Linked DNA regions of Homo sapiens. The protein of the gene in region 3 interacts with the protein of the main gene of each other region in a pairwise test. Each region holds a gene or a part of one and is shown on either strand. Other genes may lie near its edges.

The links.
Region 1: the proteins of SLC52A3 (region 3) and ATXN3 interact in binary tests that used the Homo sapiens proteins (3 or more experiments, as listed by UniProt).
Region 2: the proteins of SLC52A3 (region 3) and DNM2 interact in binary tests that used the Homo sapiens proteins (3 or more experiments, as listed by UniProt).

What each region holds. Positions count from the first base shown.
Region 1 is NC_000014.9:92,103,583-92,111,546, forward strand, and holds the start of ATXN3 (ataxin-3 reference isoform), read right to left. Parts: upstream 3,001-7,964; 5' UTR 2,971-3,000; coding exon 2,947-2,970; intron 1-2,946. UniProt on the Homo sapiens protein: Deubiquitinating enzyme involved in protein homeostasis maintenance, transcription, cytoskeleton regulation, myogenesis and degradation of misfolded chaperone substrates.
Region 2 is NC_000019.10:10,825,915-10,832,403, reverse strand, and holds the end of DNM2 (dynamin-2), read right to left. Parts: intron 3,432-6,489; exon of another isoform or gene 3,369-3,431; coding exon 3,136-3,368; intron 2,278-3,135; coding exon 2,026-2,277; intron 1,427-2,025; coding exon 1,357-1,426; 3' UTR 501-1,356; downstream 1-500. UniProt on the Homo sapiens protein: Catalyzes the hydrolysis of GTP and utilizes this energy to mediate vesicle scission at plasma membrane during endocytosis and filament remodeling at many actin structures during organization of the actin cytoskeleton.
Region 3 is NC_000020.11:759,515-765,599, forward strand, and holds the end of SLC52A3 (solute carrier family 52, riboflavin transporter, member 3), read right to left. Parts: coding exon 5,694-6,085; intron 4,490-5,693; coding exon 3,984-4,489; intron 2,311-3,983; coding exon 2,187-2,310; intron 1,725-2,186; coding exon 1,512-1,724; 3' UTR 566-1,511; downstream 1-565. UniProt on the Homo sapiens protein: Plasma membrane transporter mediating the uptake by cells of the water soluble vitamin B2/riboflavin that plays a key role in biochemical oxidation-reduction reactions of the carbohydrate, lipid, and amino acid metabolism.

The DNA.
Region 1 (7,964 bases), on a different chromosome or scaffold from region 3:
ACGCCCAGCTAATTTTGTTCATTCTTGTAGAGACAGGTCTCACCACGCCCGGCCCCATTCAAATATTTATTGAGTACTTACTCTGTGCCAGGCCCTCTCTCAGGCACTGCAGATATATCAGTGAGAAACTGTTTTTACATTCTAACTTAATAAAGGGTACTCAAAGTGACTACTCAGAAAGAGGAAACCAAGGTTCCAAGAGGAAATGGTTGCAAGGCCCTTCGTAGGCAGATATTGCTACCTACACAGCTTCTTTAGGGCCAAAGTTGGTTCTCTGGCTCTCCAAACCCAGGACCTAGCAAGGGTTAAAGGTATATTGCAGAGGGGAAGGCAGTGAACGGAAAAATGGCACAGTAAGCCCAAACATTCCCAGAATGGACTGTATAGGAGATTAACAATTGGGCCATATGGTTATAGGTGCGTACTCTTGAGGACGCCCAAAAAACTAAATTGTTGAATCTTCACATGCTATGTAGATACAAGTTGATGATAATGGTAAAGGTATTCCTGAAGTATCTGTAGGCCTATACACATGCTGATAATTAAGAGGGACTCTTTTTTCCTTTTCTTTTTTTTGAGACGGAGTCTCGCTCTGTTGCCCAGGCTGAAGTGCAGTGGCACGGTCTCGGCTCACTGCAACCTCTGCCTCTCGGGTTCAAGCAATTCTCCTGCCTCAGCCTCCAGAGTACCTGGGATTACAGGCGCCTGCCACCACACCTGGCTAATTTTTTGTATTTTTAGTAGAGACGGGGTTTCACCATGTTGGCCAGGCTGGTCTCAAACTACTGACCTCATGATCCGCCCGTCTGGGCCTCCCAAAGCACTGGTGTGAGCCACTGCACCCAGACTAAGAGGGATTTCTTTCGGGTAAGTAGATTTTCACTAGGCTAGCACTCAGCTTTTTTTCATCCCATGGGTCAGTACAAATGTGTCCCAACTAGGTAACAATATTGTTAAAAATCTTGTCTAATTCTCAGGAAGTAGTGTGGAACATGTTTAAGGCCTTCCATGTTGAAATGTGGTCCCACACCAAAGCCTTTGAAAATTAATAACAAAAATATGGCCGGGTGCGGTGGCTCACGCCTGTAATCCCAGCACTTTGGGAGGCCGAGGCGGGCGGACCACCTGTCAGGAGTTGGAGACCAGCCTGGCCAACATGGTGAAACCCTGTCTCTACTAAAAATACAAAAATTAGCTGGGCGTGGTGGCGGGCGCCTGTAATCTCAGCTACTGGGGAGACTGAGGCAGGAGAATCGCTTGAACGGGGAGGCGGAGGTTGCAGTGAGCCATGATGGCGCCATTGCACTCCAGCCTGGGTGACAAGAGCCAAACTCCATCTCAAAAAAAAAAAAAAAAAAGTACGTGTGTATTTTTCACGCACTCTACTCAGCCAAGCAACCAAATCTCTATTGTCTATGATTTACGAGTCATGTCAATCAAGTCAAAAAATTAGTGACAACTATACGACTGAGTCCTTCCTCCCCCACTGAACATCAGCCTATTTCAAAAGTTTCCGAGATGTTTTCTACAATGAAAAGCATTGTACTTAACAATTTGTTCCAGGCACAGTGGCTCACGCCTGTAATCACAGCACTTCGAGAGGCCGAGGTGGGAGAATCACCTGAGTCCAGGAGTTCGAGACCAGCCTGGGCAACACAGCGAGACCCCGTCTCTCCCAAAAACATTACCTGGCCCTGGCGATATGCACCTGTAGTCCCAGCTACTCTGGAGGCAGAGGCGGGAGGATCGCTTGTGCCTAGGAGATCAAGGCTGCAGTGAGCCATGATCTCTCCATTGCACACCTGCCTGGGTGACAGAATGAGACCCCATCTTTAAAATAAAAATTAAAAAAAATTTATGCTACAGATTTACATTTGGTAAATGTATTCTTTTGTCTTTGCTTTATTTGTTGTGTGTGTGTGAATTTTAAATGTCTGGGATAAATGATCATTTATAAGTATTTAATAAAACAAAAACCCTTTGCTCCTCCTATTAAATAACAGCCTTACCAGCAACTCTTTCCAAACACGAAACTATTATGAAACATGATACCATGTGCCAAAGCTGTCCTGGGGAAGGCTTCACTCACACACAAATGGCTGGATAATAGTATGAGAGAAACGAGGAGTTTCTTTACATATCACAAACAGTATCTTCAAGTGCATGGTCACGGAAGAGTTAAAGGGACAGCAGGCTAGGCAGACTACAACAAAATCATCCCAGTCCACTCCTAATACCTAAAAACAAAGCTGGCCGCCTGCTCCGGAAAGATGGGAGTACCAAAAGAAACCAAACCCAAACATCCCGTAATAAAAACTCTTGTGACGACTTCCCTGTTTAGGGGCACGCCGGGTTTCCTACTTCACTTCCTAAATGTCAGGCCCTACAGTGGGCGAGCCAAGGTCTCCTCCCTCGGGAGGCTCGCGGACCTAGTGCAGGGGAAAGACACGAACAAGACCCCAAAGATCTACGTGTAGGGAAGACTCCAATATAGAATTGAGCAGTCCGGAGGAGGAAAAGTTAATTCTGCCAGGATTAGGGTAGGAGGGGTTGAGGGAGGTGTCCCAGAGATGACTCTAGCTAGACCCTAGGGAGAGGGAAGGATTGGGGAGGGGTGAAGGAATCCTCCGAAAAGCGATGGAAAGTGACGGAGAAAGGCAGAAGCAAACCCACTGGGCGCCACCCCACTCCCGTGTCCCGAGACGCCCCCGGCCCCGCCCATACTCCCTCCCGGCTCCCAGGGCGGGGGCCGCGGGGGAAGTAGGGGCGTAGGTGATGCTCCCCTCCTCGAGCCGAGGAGGCGGGAGGCTGCGGCGTCGCCCCTCGCCGGGCGAGATCGGCATGGGGGCGACTCGGGCCCCACCCAGCCCTCCGAGAGGCGGTGATGCCGCGCTCCACGCCCGCCACCGCGCGGCAGACAGCTCCCCACCGAACGCGGACACTCACTTTCTCGTGGAAGATGGACTCCATGTTTATTTGTCTGGAGCCAACGGCCCCCACGCCGAACCACCCCCTCCAGCTCCGCCCCCTGCCCCTCTCCTCCGCCCACCCCGCCCCTCCCCGGCCCGCCCCGGTACCCCGCCCACGTGCCGCACGCAGACCAATCACCCGTGAGGATGCGAGTGTCGTGAAGCGAAGAGCGAGTGAACGCCGGGGACACGTGACCTTGGTAGCGCGTCCTCCTAGCTTCTGTTAGCGGGCCTTCTGGGGGATGCTACATCGCCACCTGCTGTCTGGAGGATCTTCTCCGCTTCCCACCCATTTCTATGGATTCTTAGGTTTCTGGGGGGAGGTCTGGACCGCTCACCTGGGTTCTATGTTCTTTTTGTTTTCCACTTTGACTTTCTACTGTGTTCATATAACTATTTACTTTCTTTCTCCTCCTCCTGCACTGAAAGTTTAGTAAGAAAAAAGCCATCATTACATTCTCCCAAAACCCAGCACTTGTATAAAAATGATAGCTAGGCCGGGCGAGGTGCTTCACGCTTGTAATCCCAGCACTTTGGGAGGCCGAGGCGGGCGGATCACCTGAGGTCGGGAGTTTGAGATCAGCCTGACCAACATGGAGAAACCCCGTCTCCACTAAAAATACAAAATTACCCGGGCGTGGTGGTGCATGCCTGTAATCCCAGGTACTCGGGAGGCTGAGGCAGGAGAATCGCTTGAACCCGGGAGGCCGAGGTTGTGGTGAGCCGAGATCGTGCCATTGCACGCCAGCCTGGGCAACAAAAGCGAAACCCCTCCCCCACCACCCCAAAAAAGAAAAAAAATGATAGTTAATATTTACATAAGGCTTTCTATGAGCTAGGCACTTTTCTAAATGCTTTGCATATATTATCAAATTTAATACAGCAAACTTTGATGTAGGTGTTGATGTTATTCATACACATGAGGAAACCGAGGCACGGAGAGGTTAAGAACAGCACAATGTCCAAGGTCAGATAGTAAGTTGTCTTGCCAGGATTCAAATCCAGGTGGCTTGTTACCAGTGTAGGTGTTCGGACCCTTTAGAGGGAACTTAGAAGTCCCATAAATTGTGTGGGAGACGGGGAGGTAGCAGCGGTTTGATGAAACTTAAATGGAAGGATAGGTGCAGATCTTGCACCTTGAAACCAGATTAAGGTGTACTTTTTTTTTTTTTTTTTTTGAGACGGCCCTCTCTCTGTCCCCCAGGCTGGAGTGCAGTGGCACAATCTCCCCGCTCACTGCAACTTCTGCTTCCTGGGTTCAAGTGATTCTCTTGCCTCAGCCTCCCAAACAGCTGGGATTACAGGCGTGCACCACGAAGTCCAACTATTTTTGTATTCTTAGTAGAGAAGAGGTTGTACCATGTTGGCCAGGCTGGTCTCGAACCCCCAGCCTCAGGTGATCCACCTGCCTTGGCCTCCCAAAGTCCTGGAATTACAGGCGTGAGCCACCGCACCTGGCCAAAGTGTACCTTTTAAAGGATGTGGGGAGCTATATAAATATTTTAAAAGAAGACATGTGGTCATGTTTGCCTTTTAGAAAGATCACTGGCTGCAGAAAAAAGCAGTTGCTGTTGAAGGAATCTTGGGAGAGACGATGGTGGTTTAAGAGAGTGTCTTAAAGATGGAAATAGCCCATTTTGAGAGATTCTTTGGACGTAAAGAGACTCAACAGAATGTGGTGATGATACCGAGTGGAGGAATACTAGCCTTTTTCGTCTTGAGTCGAATTACATAAAACGACATGGACAAACGTGGAGTGGTTTTAAGGAGCGGAGAGTTTAATAAGCAAGAAGGAAGGGAGAAGAAAGAAAGAAGCAGCTCCCCTGTACAGAGACAGAGGGATGGGTGCTCCAAAGCTGAGAGAGGAGACCCAGAGTGCGTGGGAGATACCAGCCAGTTATAGGAGGAGGATGCAGGAGGCGGTGTCTGATTTGCATAGGGCTCAGGGGACTGGTTTGACCACGCATGTCATTCATGTAGCCCCCTAATAAAACTGGCCATTCCACCCTAGCCTTTTAATATGCAAATGCAGGGCGCTATGATGTTCTACTCATGTGGGGATATGTGGGGGTGGCCATGTTGCCAGGCACTTGTGAGAACAAGGGCAAGAGGACGATGGTGGGAATCACCGTGTTGGTGGACCCAGTTTCTAACTGCCGGCATTTGCATATCAAACGTTGCCAGCTCGGGTCTAAAAGTCAGGGCTTTTATGCTAGACAGGAAACGTCTCAGGAGCTGCTTCAAAAGAGACAAAAACTTTTCAAGGACCCCTTTTCCTCTCTATCTGCCTAAAATAATTTCTTAATAACTCCTACCACAATGAGGGATTGGGGAAGGTAGGAGACAGAAATGTGAAGGTGACTTCTGGGTTTGTGACCTGGGCAGCCACTGTGGCAGGAGTGGTATTGAGAGCAGAAACATGGGAGGAGCAGCAAGGTTTTGGGAAGAGAATAAGATAGAGTTTACATTTTGGAGATACTGAATTTGAAATATCTATGGACATTTGAGTAATTATGTTGAGTAATGGTTGGATACCGAGTCTGAAGTTCAGGAGGCTGCTTTGAACTCAATGAGGAATTGTCATTAAAAAACAGATAGCTAAGGCCATTGTGGTGGTGCATGCCTGTAATCCCAGCACTTTGGGAGGCTGAGGCAGGCAGATCTCTTGAGGCCAGGAGTTCAAGACCAGGCTGGCCAACATGGTGAAACCTCATCTCTACAAAAATACAAAAATTAGCCGGGCGTGGTGGCTCATGCCTATAATCCCAGCTACTCAGGAGGCTGAGGCAGGAGAATCACTTGAACCGGGAGGTAGAGGTTGCAGTGAGCCAAGATCGTGCTATTGCACTCCAGCCTGGACAACAGAGTGAAACTGTGTCTCAAAAAAAAAAAAAAAAAAAAGTAACTGAAACCATAGGAGTGAATAAAATCATTTTAGGGAAAAGGAAGTGATTGAGAAGAGGGCTAGAGCTGAGCCGTGAGGATAGGAGAAGCAATAACCAAGGAGGAGGGAGGAGAAGCAAGAGAGTGTGACATTGTGGAAGGCCTGGGCAGGGGATGCTTCAAGGGGTAGTCAGTGTCAGTTGCTGCCAAGAAGTCAAGCAATATAAGGTCGTATAAGAGCCCACTAAATTTTGTTGCTATGGAGACCATTGGTGACTTTGGGGACTGCAGGTTCAGAGAAGTAGAGGGGGCAGTGAGAGGTAAGAGAATGGAGACTGCCAGAGAGGACCAGGTGCTGAAGGAGAGGATTCGGTACCATTTATCGAGCATCTCTGTGTGCACGGTTCACAGCCTTGTATGGGGGAAAGTCCATGTTCTTAAGGATTTGTGTGGCCTACCCAGGGAAATAAATTATAGTCTCATGAAGTGAAAAAAATTGCAAACCACCTTTTCTGTTTTTGTTTTGTTTTTTTAAATTGTAGTTGATGTCTTTCAAATGAATTAATGAAGTCGAAGGTCTTAGTCTTTTTGGGGCGCTTTAACAAGATATCTTAGAGTAATTTATAAACAGAAGTTTATTACAGATCTGTAATAAATTTACAGGCTAGGAAGTCCAAGATCAAGGCTCTAACGGATTTAGTGTCTGGTGAGGGCCCATTCCTCATAGATGGTGCATTTTTTTGTCCTCACATGGTGGAAGGGGAAAAGGGGCAAACAAGCTTCCTCTCTGCATAAGGGCACTAATCTCAGTCACAAGGCTTGGCCTTATGATCTAATCATCTCCCAAAGGCCCCATCTGTTAAACCAACACACTGGAGACTACATTTCAACAAATGAATTTTGGAAAGATACAAACATTCAGATCATAGCACCAAGTATCTGGGAATCATTTTTTATTCTCTTCCCACAACTTCTCCACGTCACCCCTTATTCCAATCAGTCCTCAAATGCTATAAATCCACTCCTAACTCTCTCTTGCCCTTGTCTTCATTGCTACTACTTAGTTCAAGCCCTCTTGGTATCTTGTGTACTCTAGTCCAAGGATCTTTGAATTGGTCTTCTGATTCCAGTCTCAATATGTCTAATTCATGGTGCTGTCAGTGATCTTCCAAAAATGCAAATCTCACAAGATTTTCTTTTGTTTAACAAGAATAACTGCATATCAGGCCCTGGGACTATAACCATGAAAAACACAAACAGTCCCACCTTCAGGGGACTTACATTGGCAGGGATTCTTAAATGATTACACAACTCTGACTTCAAAATCCTTCAGTGATGGCCGGGTGCAATGGCTCATGCCTGTAATCCCAGTACTTTGGGAGGCCGAGGCGGGTGGATCACCTGAGGTCAGGAGTTCAAGACCAGCCTATCCAACATGGTGAAACCCCATCTCTACTAAAAATACAAAAATTAGCCGGGTGTTGTGGTGGGCACCTGTAATCCCAGCTACTTGGGAAGCTGAGGCAGAATTGCTTGAACCTGGGCGGCAGAGGTTGCAGTGAGATGAGATCGCAACAGTGCACTCCAGCCTGGGCAACAGAGTGAGACTCTGCCTCAAAAAAAAAAAAAAAAAAAAAAAATCCTTCAGTGACTTCCTATTGCCATCCTATTGCTGGCCTGAAAAGCTCTGTGATCTGGACCAACCACCTGTCCTGTTCTGTTCTCCCCAAATTCTCTCTGCCCCAGTCACTCCAGACTCTAGTCATACTAGCTTCTTCCTTTTACTTCTGGAAAGTTCACTAAGGAAAAGTATTTTGTGCCACCGCTACACCTTGAGCATGCCTACATTACAGCACCATTACATCATACTGGAAGTATTACTTTATATACTACTGAACTATCAGCTTTTGAGGGGCAGAGGAATCTTACTCTTCTTTTTTTTTTTTTTTTGAGACAGAGTCTCACTCTCTCGCCCAGGCTGGAGTGCAGTGGCGTGATCTCAGCTCACTGCAACCTCCGCATCCAGGGTTCACGCCATTCTCCTGCCTCAGCCTCCCAAGTAGCTGGGACTACAGGCGCCCTCCACCATGCCCGGCTAATTTTTTTGTATTT
Region 2 (6,489 bases), on a different chromosome or scaffold from region 3:
CCAGGACAGACCGGCCCCCGAGGGGGCAGCCAGACAGGTGGGAGGGGCCTCCCACGAAGCTCAGAAGAAAGGTCGTGCGGGAGCCGATGGAGGTGGTCGCCTGGCACAAGAGAAAAATCAGAAAGCAAAGTTTAACTGAGCCCCAGTTGGGCCACGAGGCTTGGGCTTCCCCACGAGGTGAGAGAAGCAGGGCCTGAGGGTAGGAAGGGGGTGGAGCGCTGGGGTCCCCGCTTCACCAGGCAGCAGCCAGGCCTGTGCACGTGGGGGTGTGCAGGGGGTCAGAGAATATCTGCTCCCACTCCTCACATGCTAAGGAAAGTAAAAGCTCTCCCCTGTATCGAGTGGCTTCCTCTGAAAGGTGACACCCCCGAAAGCAGAGCCCTCAGGGAGATGGGAGGCACTTATGAGTGCAGGGACTTGGGCATCCTTATGGGAGGCCTGATGGAGGTGGCACCCATGTCCCCAGCCTGAACACTAACACAAGAGGCCCACACAGCAGCCACCAGCAGCGTCTTCCCTTTATTTTAGTTTATTAATAGAATACAGAGTGCAGGCACTTACAGTGGTCAAACTGAGCGAGGAGTGGGTGAGGTCTCCTCAGAGAGAGGCCGCCCTGGGCCCACCCATCAGGGAGGCATGGGCGGGAGCTGAGAGGCCCCCAAGACCCCCCGCCACCACCACCCACATAGCCCAAGCCCAGCCACCCTGGGGGACCCAGGAGGAGGAGGAGGAGAGGAATAGGGCAAGGCCGGCCCGGGCCAACGGCTCCGGGCCTAGCAAAGGCACCTCTGGCAGCCGAGGCTGGGCCAGGCTCAGGCTGTGTGGTTAATATGGCCGGGAAGGACTATGTACACCTCAGGCCTGCCAGCTGGGCACTACCGAGCCCACTGGGCCAGGCTTGCCGCTGGGGAGCTCCTGCTAATGGGAAGTTGATATACCCCTGCACCCCAGCAAGGCCTGGGGATGTAGGCGCCCTTGGTGCCCGCACTTATAGAAGGCCTGCCCTACATGGGCTTTCCCAGCCCAAGAAGACCTTGGTAGAGTCCCCCCCAGGCTGGACCCCTCATTCAGGATGGTGTCAAGGGTTCTGGTCCCCCCTCTGCCACCCTGAGACTCCATCCCCCAAAGTGCAACACCCCAGCGCCCCCTGCCTGGAGCTCCAGGGCCCCTTTGCGCAGTGCGGTGTCCAGCCAGGCACAGGGGCCGGCCCTGGACCGGGGCCAGCGTTAAGGAAGAGGCCAGGGCTGCCCACTGGGAGCCTGGTCCCAGCATAGGGGCGGCGGAGGGCCCCAGACCACTGAAGCTCCTGCGCCGCGGGTGCGTGAGGCCCCCCCGAGAGCACGCCCCCCTCGAGGCCTAGTCGAGCAGGGATGGCTCGGCTGGGCGGATAATGGTGGGCCGGCTGGGCGCAGCAGGGGGTCTTCTGCTGCAAAGAGAATAAAGACAGGTGGGGAGGGGGAGACGGCAGTGAGGCCGGGAGCAAGAGGCAGGCCTGGGTTGAGGACCCAGCCCCCACCCACACACCACCCCAGGGTGTTCCCAGGCTGACCTCCGCAAGCCACCAGGGTGTCGGGCAGGAGTGCCAAACCTAGGCATCAACTCGCCTGCTGTTTGACCCTCAGTGAGCCCCCTGCCCTCCCTGGGCCTCAGCTTCCCCACCGGAGAAGTGGGGAGAATAAAGCCTGGCCCACGGTAGGTTGAGGCAGGCAGGAGCAGGAAGGAGAAGAAGGTAAACAGTGGGAGGAGGTGCCCAGTGTGAGGGTTCCCCAGCTGCCTGGTGGCACACCCCAGTAGGCAGAGGGCAAGCTGGGAGCCCCGGAGTCACCAGGGCTCCGCTACTCTGTGACACTGAACAAGCCTCTTGGCCTCTCTGGGCCTGTTTCCTCGCAAGCCAAATAGGGATGAGGACGATTCCTCCACTCCAGCAGCTGGGCACGTAGTGAGAGCTCACTGGGAGGAAGTGAGACAGGAGGAGAGACCCCAGGGTGCAGGCAGTTGGGGTGGAGGGCAGGGGGTTGGCCTTACCTGGGCACTCCTGGGGGAATCCCTGGGGGGATCCGAACTGGCCGAGATGGGATCTGAGGCGGGGCTGGGAAGAGGTCACTGTTGGCAAACACGCTCTGGGGTCCAGGCCGGGATGGGATTGGGGGCGCCGAGAAGGAGGCTGCTGCCCCCACGGGAACAGGAATCAGGGGGGGCCCTGGAGTGGGGCCCCTCACTGCTGGGGGCCGGCCAGGGGGGTGTATGCTGGACACCGGTCGGCGCTGTGGAGTGGGGCTGTGAGGAAGGAGAGGGTGTGAGCTACAGATACAGATGGAGTAGGAGCCCCCGCCATGCCACTGTGGCTGCCAGAACCTGAGGTGGGGGCTGGCTATGGGGACAGCGCAGGCGCAGTGGGATCCTCCCACCCCAACCTGAGCGCCAGTCCCACCTTCCCTTGCCCTCGGCCCCCTCAGGCACTTCCCACTCACAGGGCCCCCTCAGGCCTTGGGCCTGGGATCCACCCTCACAGCCAAAGACACTTCCAGAGTCCTCCAGATCAAGCCCTAATATCTCTAGGGGCCGTGGAACCTGCAAGCCCTGTCCAGACATCCAGATTCCCTCCTGGGCCTCAGTCCCTGCCACCTGCAGGCCTGGGTGCGATATCCTCCCCTTAAGGAACTCCATGGCTCCCCCAGGGCTCTGCAAGGCAGCCCCCTCTGAGGTTCCCTGCCCGACGGCCTCAATGGACAACTCAGGGGCGGCAGCAGCTCTGGCCACGCCTTGCGTTTGCCCCTCCAGAGCCTCCCATCTGCCCTTCTCTGTGCTCCAGGAGGCTCATCTCTCTCCTGTGGCTGCTGCCCCTCCAGCCTCTTACCCCAGCTTCCATTTGGGCTGTGCCAATGGAAGGCACCAGCAGAGGGCAGGCGGGGTATTTATTCACAGGGTCCTGCCCTAGAGCTGTAGGGCTGGCTCGCCCCCATACCCCTTCTCTCCCTCCTCCGGCCTCAGCAGGGCAGCAGCTCCCACAGTGCCCAGCCCTGGGTGCCACCCTTGGGCTGTGTCCTGTTTCCTGCCAGGACCCTGCAGGACACACAGGGAGGGCAGGAACCTGCAGGCCGAATGCTTGAGGGTAGGGGAACCAGGCTTCCGGACCTGTGGCTGCTGGCGCTCTGGAGCCAGGTGTCATCGACAGGCGGGGGTACAGGCGTGGACACAGTGCTGGTGCTGATGTCACCGATGATGTTGAGCGCCTCCTTGAGGGCATGGTACATGCGCAGCATGTCGTCCCGCCGCTGTGCCTGGTCAGCCGACTCCTCCATGAGGCTGCTCTGGTCTGCCGAGGAGTATAGGTAGGCCAGCAGCTCGTGGTGGATGAAGGCCTTCGTCTGCGGGCAGGGGTTGGGGAGGGTCAGGCTTGTGTATCACCCCAACCCAGAACCCACAGTGACTGCTGGAAAAACATCTCTCACAGGGCGGGGCCACCCCCAGACTTTTTTGAAAAAGAGTCTTGCTCTGTCACCCAGGCTGGAGTACAGTGGCTCAATTTCAGCTCACTGCAACCTCCGCCTCCCGGGTTCAAGTAATTATCCTGCCTCAGCCTCCCAAGTAGCTAGGACGACAGGCACGTTGACACCATGCTTGGCTAAGTTTTGTAATTTTTTTAGAGATAGGGTTCCACCATGTGGCCCAGGCTGGTTATGAGATTCTTATTCAACTTATTTCTAGTATCTTGCCTCTTCCATTGATGTCTTTTCTCCTGTTTTAGCTTATTTATTTATTTCCTTAACCTTGGCAGAATAATCCTGTTATATCTTTTTTGTTTTTGCTTTTTTTTTTTTGAGACAGTCTCACTGTCGCCCAGGTTGGAGTGCAGTGGTGCAATCTCAGCTCACTGCAACCTCCGCCTCCCGGGTTTATGCCATTCTCCTGCCTCAGTCTCCCAAGTAGCTGGGACTACAGGCGCCTGCCACCACGCCCAGCTTATTTTTTGTATTTTTAGTAGAGACAGGGTTTCACCCTGTTAGCCAGGATGGTCTCGATCTCCTGACCTTATGATCCGCCTGCCTCAGCCTCCCAAAGTGCTGGGATTACAGGCGTGAGCCACCGCGCCCAGCCAATCCTGTTATATCTTTATTTTTTTGTGACAGAGTCTCACTCTGTCACCCAGGCTGCAGTGCAATCTTGGCTCACTGCAACCTGCGTCTCCTGGGTCCAAGCAATTCTTGTGCCTCAACCTCCCAAGTAGCTGGGACTACAGGCGTGCCCCCCAACCCCCGGCTAATTTTTGTATTTTTAGCAGAGATGGGGTTTCACCATATTGGCCAGGCTGGTCTTTAACTCCTGACCTCAGGTGATCCACCCGCCTTGGCCTCCCAAAGTGCTGGGATTACAGGCGTGAGTGAGCCACTGCGCCCGGCTAATCCTGTTACATCTTCCACCTGGCTTCTGTTCAAACACTACTAGTTTCTGTTCATGAATTTTATACATTGTCCTTTCTGGAACCTCCTACTGGATACAGAAGTTTTTCAGTTACTTTTTTTTTTCTTTTTTTTTGAGACAGAGTCTCCCTCTGTCACCAGGCTGGAGTACAGTGGCATGATCTCCGCTCATTGCAAACTCCACCTCCTAGGTTCAAGTGATTCTCCTGCCTCAGCCTCCAGAGTAGCTGGGACTACAGACGCGTGCCACCACGCCCAGCTAATTTTTGTATTTTTAGTAGAGGGGGGTTTCAGCATGTTGGCCAGGATGGTCTCAGTCTCTTGACCTCGTGATGTGCCCGCCTCAGCCTCCCAAAGTGCTGGGATTACAGGCATGAGCCACCACACCTGGCCGTCACAACTTTTTTTTTTTTTAGATAGGGTCTCACTCCTATCACTCAGGCTGGAATGCAGTGGAGCGATCTTTGCTCACCGCAGCCTCGATCTCCTGGGCTCAAGTGATCTTCCTGCCTCAGCTTCCCGAGTAGCTGGGCCGACAGATTTATTATTTTCTTAAATAATAAAATATTTTTATTTTATAAGAGTCTATTAAAAATGGATAATTATGTCCCATCTTTGGCTGCTATAAAACATCATGGAAAACAATAAGCATGTATAAGCTCACTTTGCACGTGGGCAATTGTCTCTCTTAGAGAAGTTCCTAAAAGTAAACTTGCAGGGTCAAAGGATATATGCATTTTAAATTTCATAGCAGAAGAACCGTATATGTCTCCGATCCTATCGGTATATGAGGAAACATACCAGGACACCATGAAACTGTGAACACTGATCACTACTGAGAATGGGAGCAACAGGGTGGGAGGGCATGGCACGTGGGAGGTGTGTGTGTGTTTTAAATAGGGATGGGGTCTCACTATGTTGTCCAGGCTGGTCTTGAACTCCTGGGATCGAGTGATCCTCCTGCCAAGCCTCCCAAAGTGCTGGGAGTACAGATGTGAGCCACCATGCCCAGCCACACCCTGTGTGGGAGTTTTACTTAGATCCGCAGGTTTCTGTGGTTGACATTCATATACAAAACCCAAGACACTTTTTTTTTGAAAGAGGTTCCTGCTCCATCACCCAGGCTGGAGAGCAGTGGCGTAATCATGGCTCACTGCAGCCTCAACCTCCTGGGCTCAAGTGATGCTCTTACCTCGGTCTTCTGAGTAGCTGGGACTACAGGCATTTGCCACCACGCCCAGCTAATTTTTAAATTTTTTGTAGAGACTGGGGTATGGCTATGTTGCCCAGGCTGGTCTTCAGCTCCTGGGCTCAAGTGATCCTCCCTCCTCAGCCTCCCAAAGTGCTGGGATTACAGGCATGAGCCACTGCTCCGGCCCCAAAGCTGGTTTATAAAGCTTCCTGAGTGGCTAGTGCCATGCCAAAGGCCTGATACACAAGTGCCCTGAGCCCTCTAGCAGCCTGAGCTGGAGATACTATCAGTACAGCTGCATTTCACTGAAGAGGAGCCCAGAGCCCTGAGAGTCTCCAGGGAACCCGGGGCCAGGCGGGTGACGCCCATGAGGAAGAGGCTGGGCCCCAGATCATTAGGACACAGCGGCTGCCCAACACAACCCAAGGGTATGGTTGCAACCAGGGTAAACGTGGGTTTGAATCCCACTTCCCACTTTCCTAAGGAACTTGGGGCAGGTTACTTGATCTCTCTGGCCTTGTTTTCTGTCTGTGAAATGGGGAAGATGGCCGTTCTCCCTCCTGCAGTTATTCTGATGCCAGCCTAAGTTAATTCAGAGAAGGCGCACACCTGCAGTGTTCACTCCAGTTAGTGGACTTGATGGGACTATGGACCCAGTGTGGCTCGGAAACCCTAGGGTTTCCCAAAGAGGATGGCCGTGCAGATTCTGGTGTTCAAAGGGTGGTGATTCATTCAAATTTGTTGTTGCTGTTGTTGGACACAAGGTCTTGCTCTGTCGCCCAGGCTGGAGTGCAGTGGCATGATCATAGCTCACTGCAGCCTCAACCTCCTGGGCTCAAGTGATCCTCCTGCCTCAGCCTCCCAAAGTGCTAAGAC
Region 3 (6,085 bases):
ACTCAGGAGGCTGAGGCAGGAGAATCACTTGAACCTGGGAGGCAGAGGTTGCAGTGACCTGAGATTGCGCCACGGCACTCCAGCCTGGGTGACAGAGCAAGACTCCATCTCAAAACAAAAAAAGCCCCAGAACCAGACATCCTTAAGCACTTGATTCTGTTCATTTCTGAGCTCAGCCTTGAGCTTAGAACCAAGTGAAAACTAATTACACATTTTCGGAGTTCACATTAAACTTCTTCTTTTTAAAATTATTATTTTTGAGACAGAATCTTGCTCTGTCACCCAGGCTGGAGGGCAGTGGCACGATCTCAGCTCACTGCAGCCTCCACCTCTGGGGTTCAAGCAATTCTCAGTCTCCTGAGTAGCTGGGACTACAAGCATGTGCCACCATGACCAGCAATTTTTTGTATTTTTAGTAGAGATGGGTTTTTGCCATGTTGGCCAGGCTGATCTCAAACTCCTGGCCTCAAGTGATCTGCCCGCCTTGGCCTCCCAAAGTGCTGGGATTACAGGTGTGAGCCACTGTGCCATGCCTGAACTTCTCCTTTGAAGGAAGATCTGAGTGTAAAAGCAGGGAATGCCTTTATTTAAAAAAATGAAAAACAGAAACTAAAACAAAATAACAATCACCTCTGTTGCCTCCATTTGAGAGAATACTTCCAGGGGCTCTGCATGTCTGGTCCCCAACCTGGTCGGGGAGTTCACTTTCAGAGGCTCAGGGATGGGCCTTCCCCAGCCCCACCAGCAAATCATCTCTCCCGGCTTCCAGGAGGGTACTTACTCTCCAACTAGTGGGCTTTATGGGCCAGGAAGGATGACAGGAAGGGGTGTGTGGGGTACTACGTCCCTCCACACTGAGAATCCGAAAGCCAAGATGCCCAAGATTCTATCGTTATCTGCTTGTCTTGTAGAAGCCCCTCTGTGAGACTGAGGGGCAAAGGAGAGAGGGCAGGGGCGTGTCTCAACCCTTCTGGCCACTTCTAGGTTGTGCAGACTGCCACTCTTGTTACTACGATGGACTGTCAGATCAGCAGGTGGCCCAGGAGGGCTTGCTTGATGCGGGCTGCTTTTTCCTTTTGCCTCCGTGCCATGCCTGTGAGGTAGTTGGTACTTACTGGAATCCCCACTGCATGCATGAAGAAACAGGCACAGAGAAGCCAAATGACTTTCCCAAGGTCACACAGCCTGAAGGGACAGCCGGCTGTCCCAGCTGTTTCCCTTCTAACACCCTTGGGCCTGCCTCCAGCTAGATGCTGCAAATCAGTCCTCTCTTGAGAGTCAAAGCAAAGGAGATCTGAGCTGGTCGTCACAGGTAGTGTGACACAGAGTTGGGGATAGAGCCGCACCTTGCATTTCCAGGTGCCATCTTCCCCACAGTCCCCAGTGGGCACTTGCGTTCATGATTCAATTACTCAGGCTCTGTCTCTCTGTTCCTGCCCCTTGCTCTGTGACCTGGCCTCTCTGGACCCCAGTTCCGTCCGTGAGCGATGGGGGCGGGGTCGGCGGCCTGCCTAGGCTGGACAGTGCAGATTGCAGAAGTCCGCGGACGAGAAGAGCCGCAGCACGTTGACCAGAGGGAACATGAGCAGCGCTCCGAGCAGCGAGCCCAGCTGCACCGCCGCCCCGCACCACAAGAGGGCGCTGCGGCTGAGGTCGCGCAGGACCACGCCCAGCATCACCTTGACGTAACTGAGGCAGCCGCTGAAAAGCACCCACGAGGCCACCTGCGGGGCCGGGAGGGAAGAGGTGCAGAGTCACGGGGCTTGCGGGGCGAGCGCCGGAGCAAAGAACTCTCACAGGGCTCAGGGGAACCCACGGAATACTCTCTAGGTGCGAGGAGCGCCTTCTGGGAGTGAGCCTGCGGGGCCGACGGGTCCCATGAGTTGGCCGCCCGGGGGCGAAGGAGAATCCAGTGGCTTTTCTGGGTTCACGTGCCCATGATCAGGGCAAGGGCCCTTGAGAGAAGGCCCCTGCTGAGGTACACATGGTGGGAAGAGGCCTACCAGTCACCTCGATTCCCTAAGCCTCCACTCCCAAATGAGGAAGGGGCGCTTCCCCCACCTGGGGCTTCCCGGGAGGGTCCCACAGACCCCGCTCGCTGGAAAGGGCCGCGCCCAAGCTCTCCCAGGCCTTGGCTAGGGGTGAGGGGTACGCAGCGGGAGCAGCCCCACCGGCCGGATACTCACAATGAGGACTTCCCCACCCCAGTGGCCCTGCAAGAGGGGGCAGGGGCTCATCACCGCCATGGCCATGTTGTAGCCCCCAAAGCAGGTCCCAAGCACGGAGAGGACCCCCAGGAACAGCAGAGACCTAGAGGAAAGTAGGGGAGGTGAGTGGAGGTGAGAAGCCTGACCTCTGACCCCCCCGCCCCACTGGGCGGCATGTGGATGGCCAGTGTCTCCATAGTTAGTTTAGACCCATGTGGAAAATTCCAGGTTGCCTGGCTCAAGTGGGTCAGGGAGGCTCCTGAGCAGGCAGGGCTGGCCTGAGTCATCCCCAGCATTAACGGCAGGGCCTGGCACCCCGGCAAGAAAAACATAATGGACTCTGGCACCGGATGGTCCTGGTTCAAATCCCAGTTCTACTGTTTAAGCTGAGACTCGCCTCTGAGCCTCCAAATCGGAGTTTTGCAAGGCTGCATGACCTCCAGGAGCAGAGCATGCAGGCCTGGCGCCGCTGTGGGCCCACCTGGTGTTTACCTGCTGGCATTTCCTCCTGCAACACACCCTCAGCCTCAGCCAGGAAGCTGAGTTGAAGTGAAGATGGCTGGATCGGGCATTGGCACAGTAGGGTTTGCTGTGCCTCCTCAGGAGACCCCTCCCCTTCTGGCCTCAGCTACCTGCCTCTGCAATGTGGAGTGTGCTGATCTCCAGGGGTCCTGGCAGCTGGCTTGTTGCTGCTAGGAGCATCTCTCTACAGGTGGCCTTCCATGCAAACCTACATCTGGGACCACTGTCCTTCCTCACAGGTCCTTGTCCCTGGGGTCCCAATCTCTAGAACCCCAAGACTGGTCCACGCCCTGGGTAAGAACAGACAGAGGTCTGCCTATACCCTTAAAGACTCTTTCTGCTCCAAGATTCTTGGATTCCATGACTCAGATTCTGTAATTCTAACATTTGGGGTTTCTTGGATTTGCAGGTCTGAGCCTTTGGTCCTGCTTCCCTCAAATCCTCCATCCTCTTTCCAGTTTCTAGGTCCCAAGGTAGAAAATCCAGCTTCCTGGCAAGCTTTCTGTCAAGCTCTTCTGTCCTCACTGTCCTTCTTCTGGGCTGGGAGAGTGGGTGTAAGCAGGCCAGTGAGGACAGGCAGGCCAGCGTGGATACGAGGCTGTAGGACCCACCTCAAATGTCAAGATCCCAAGGTGGTAGTTCTCCTACAGGGGTCTGAAGCCCCTGCCTCAGAACCGTCTGGTTTCCTTACTAAAAATTGAAATCCCAGGTCCCAGTCTAGGCTGGTTCAATCTGCATTTTATCAACTTGCCCAGCCATTCTTCTAGAACTGTGGCTCTAAGGGAACCAGCAGGAGGTTAGAGGCAGGAAGGCAGGGCCGAAATCCTGGGAATTAGACCAGGTCAAGCTCTTTCTCCAAGCCTCAGGGTTTCCCCTTATAAACGGGAACCTCAGTGGCTATCTGCTCCTCCTCATGGACTGATGACAATGATGGTCAACGCTTAGGCTGGACCTGCCACGTGCCAGGCACCGCTCCAAGAGCTTTATAGAATCAGCTCATATCATGCTTCCAGCAGTCCTAGGAGGTGGAATGTTACACTCCCATTTTCCGATAAATATCCCTGAGGCACAGAGAACTGAAGTGACTTGTCTTACACACAGCTGACAGGTGGCAGAGCTGGGATTTGGACCAGGGTGCTCCCCAAACATGTTCTTAACCACTACATGTACAGCCCAGTAGGTGCGTTTGGAATTCTGGGTTCTGAAATGAAGTGTTCCCCCACTAGGATTCCCTAGGACCAGATGAGGGCACACCTGTTAGGCAGGAACATGGAGACCAACGAGGCAAGAGGGTTGGCCACAATGCTGAGGGTGGCAGCCAGGTGGTAGGCAACTGGCCCATAGGACAGGCAGGAGTAGGTCTGCACAGAGGGCAGCATGCCGTTGGTGAGCGCGTTGACGAAGGCCACCAGGGTATAGATGAAGGCCAGGTGCGCCGGGCAGCAGGGGGCTGCTTTCTCCTCTAGATACCCCTGGCCCTGGCTGCTGTCCACCGTGCCTGCAGGGCCCAAGTCATTCTCTTCCCGCGGCCGGATGGAGTGGAGGGTGACCTGGTCATTGAGGAGGTCTTCCACGGAAGCCTCCCAGCACCTGGGTTGACGCTGGAGGACAAAGAACGCCACGAGGCAGCAGGCCATCATGATGGATAGGAGGAGGAAGAAGACCAGGGGTGAGAAGTGGGCGGGAAGGTAGCGGCTCTCCAGGTGGGACAAGGGTGCTTCCATTCCGGGGAGGGCGGACACCAAAGCTCTGGGAACTCCCTGCAAAGGACAAGACAGATCCCTGGTCAGGGGAGGGGATCAGGCTGCAGAACAACAATCATGACAGTGATAACAGAATACAGATCACCTGTTATTATTAATGGATAATGAATAAATAAACATAACTAACAAGGTGGCAATAATGACTGCTCATACTGACTGCCCACTGAGCACGGGCACTGTGCATGGATAAGCCCCTATGCCTCCTAACAGGGCTGCACAGTGGGCACCATCATCCCCCATTTTAGAGGGAACTGAGGTATCAGAATGCTTCGTCCCTTACCTGAGGGTCACAGGGAGAATGTGGCAAAGCCAGACTCCACCTGGTGCTTTCTGACTTGGAAGCTACACCTTTTATCACCCCACAGCAGTGGCAACCACAAACATGTTCAGAGGAGGAGCTAGCTGGAGACTGAGCAGTGGAGCCGCCCACCTAAGAGGAGAGCCCCCACCTAAGGGGAGAATCCCCCACCTAAGGGGAGAGCCCCCACCTAAGGGGAGAATCCCCCACCTAAGGGGAGAGCCCCCACCTAAGGAAGAACACTGCTCCACCCATCGTCTAGGAAATAAGGGCCTTCAGGACATGCCATCCCAAAATATGACTGTAGGAGGCCAGAATATGCCACCCCAAAATTGACCTATTGGCATATTTTTTATTTCTAGCTGGTTATTTTGAAAAATTGCAGGCTAAGGAGTAGCTCTGAAAAGTTGCCATTTTGTAAGATAAATTTACATCTAAAGGAAATTTTTATTAGTAAAGCTATCTTATCTGTACCAAGAAAAGGTATCTGTACCACGAAGGGGTATCTGAACCAGGAAGAGAAAGGTGATGGCCTTTATCACCCGAGGAACTTTTATCTGCATAACAGTGCAATGTTTATTCACCATAAGTTTCCTCCCTTCACTCTCCCATAATTTGTCTCCACCATCCTGCAGTAGCCTCAAGCCCCTATTCCCTTTTGTAGCTCAGGATGCTATAGAAGCTGAAATCATCTGGCCCTTTTTTGAGTCTCATATTTTTTGGGGACTCCCATGCGTATGTATGTAAGTAATTAAAATGAGTTTCCTGCTGTTGATCTGCCTTATGTCAGTTTAACTCATAGGCCGACCAAAGAACCTAGAAGGATGGAGGTGAGCAGTTTTTCCCTCCCCTACATTTGTGATAAAGCCAAGTGCTGAGATGGCTCCGGGTGATGCTGGGTACCTGTGCGATGTCAGTCTCCCTCGTGGGTACAGGGCTTGGTACGCTGTCTGATATCTCAGTGACATTGACGCAGGTAGTGAGACCGGAGCCCTGGGCAAGAGCCACCAGGGCGGGCAAGAGGCCGCTGAGTCCTTCACCCACAAAGAAGGTGGTGAGGTAGTAGGTGGGCAGCCGGCTCATGAACGGCAGGAAGGTCACTGAAGAGGTGCAGTCCACCAGGGCCAGGAAGAAGGTGAGGACCAAGAAGGCGATGCTGTGGTGGCCGTCCAGCACCCAGGAGGTCATATTCCAGAGGAAGGCAAAGATGATGCAGGTGACGGTTCCCACGCCCAGCAGGGTGAAGATGATGGGCACTTCGGAAAGGCAGCTGGGCCGGAAGTGATGGAGCAGGG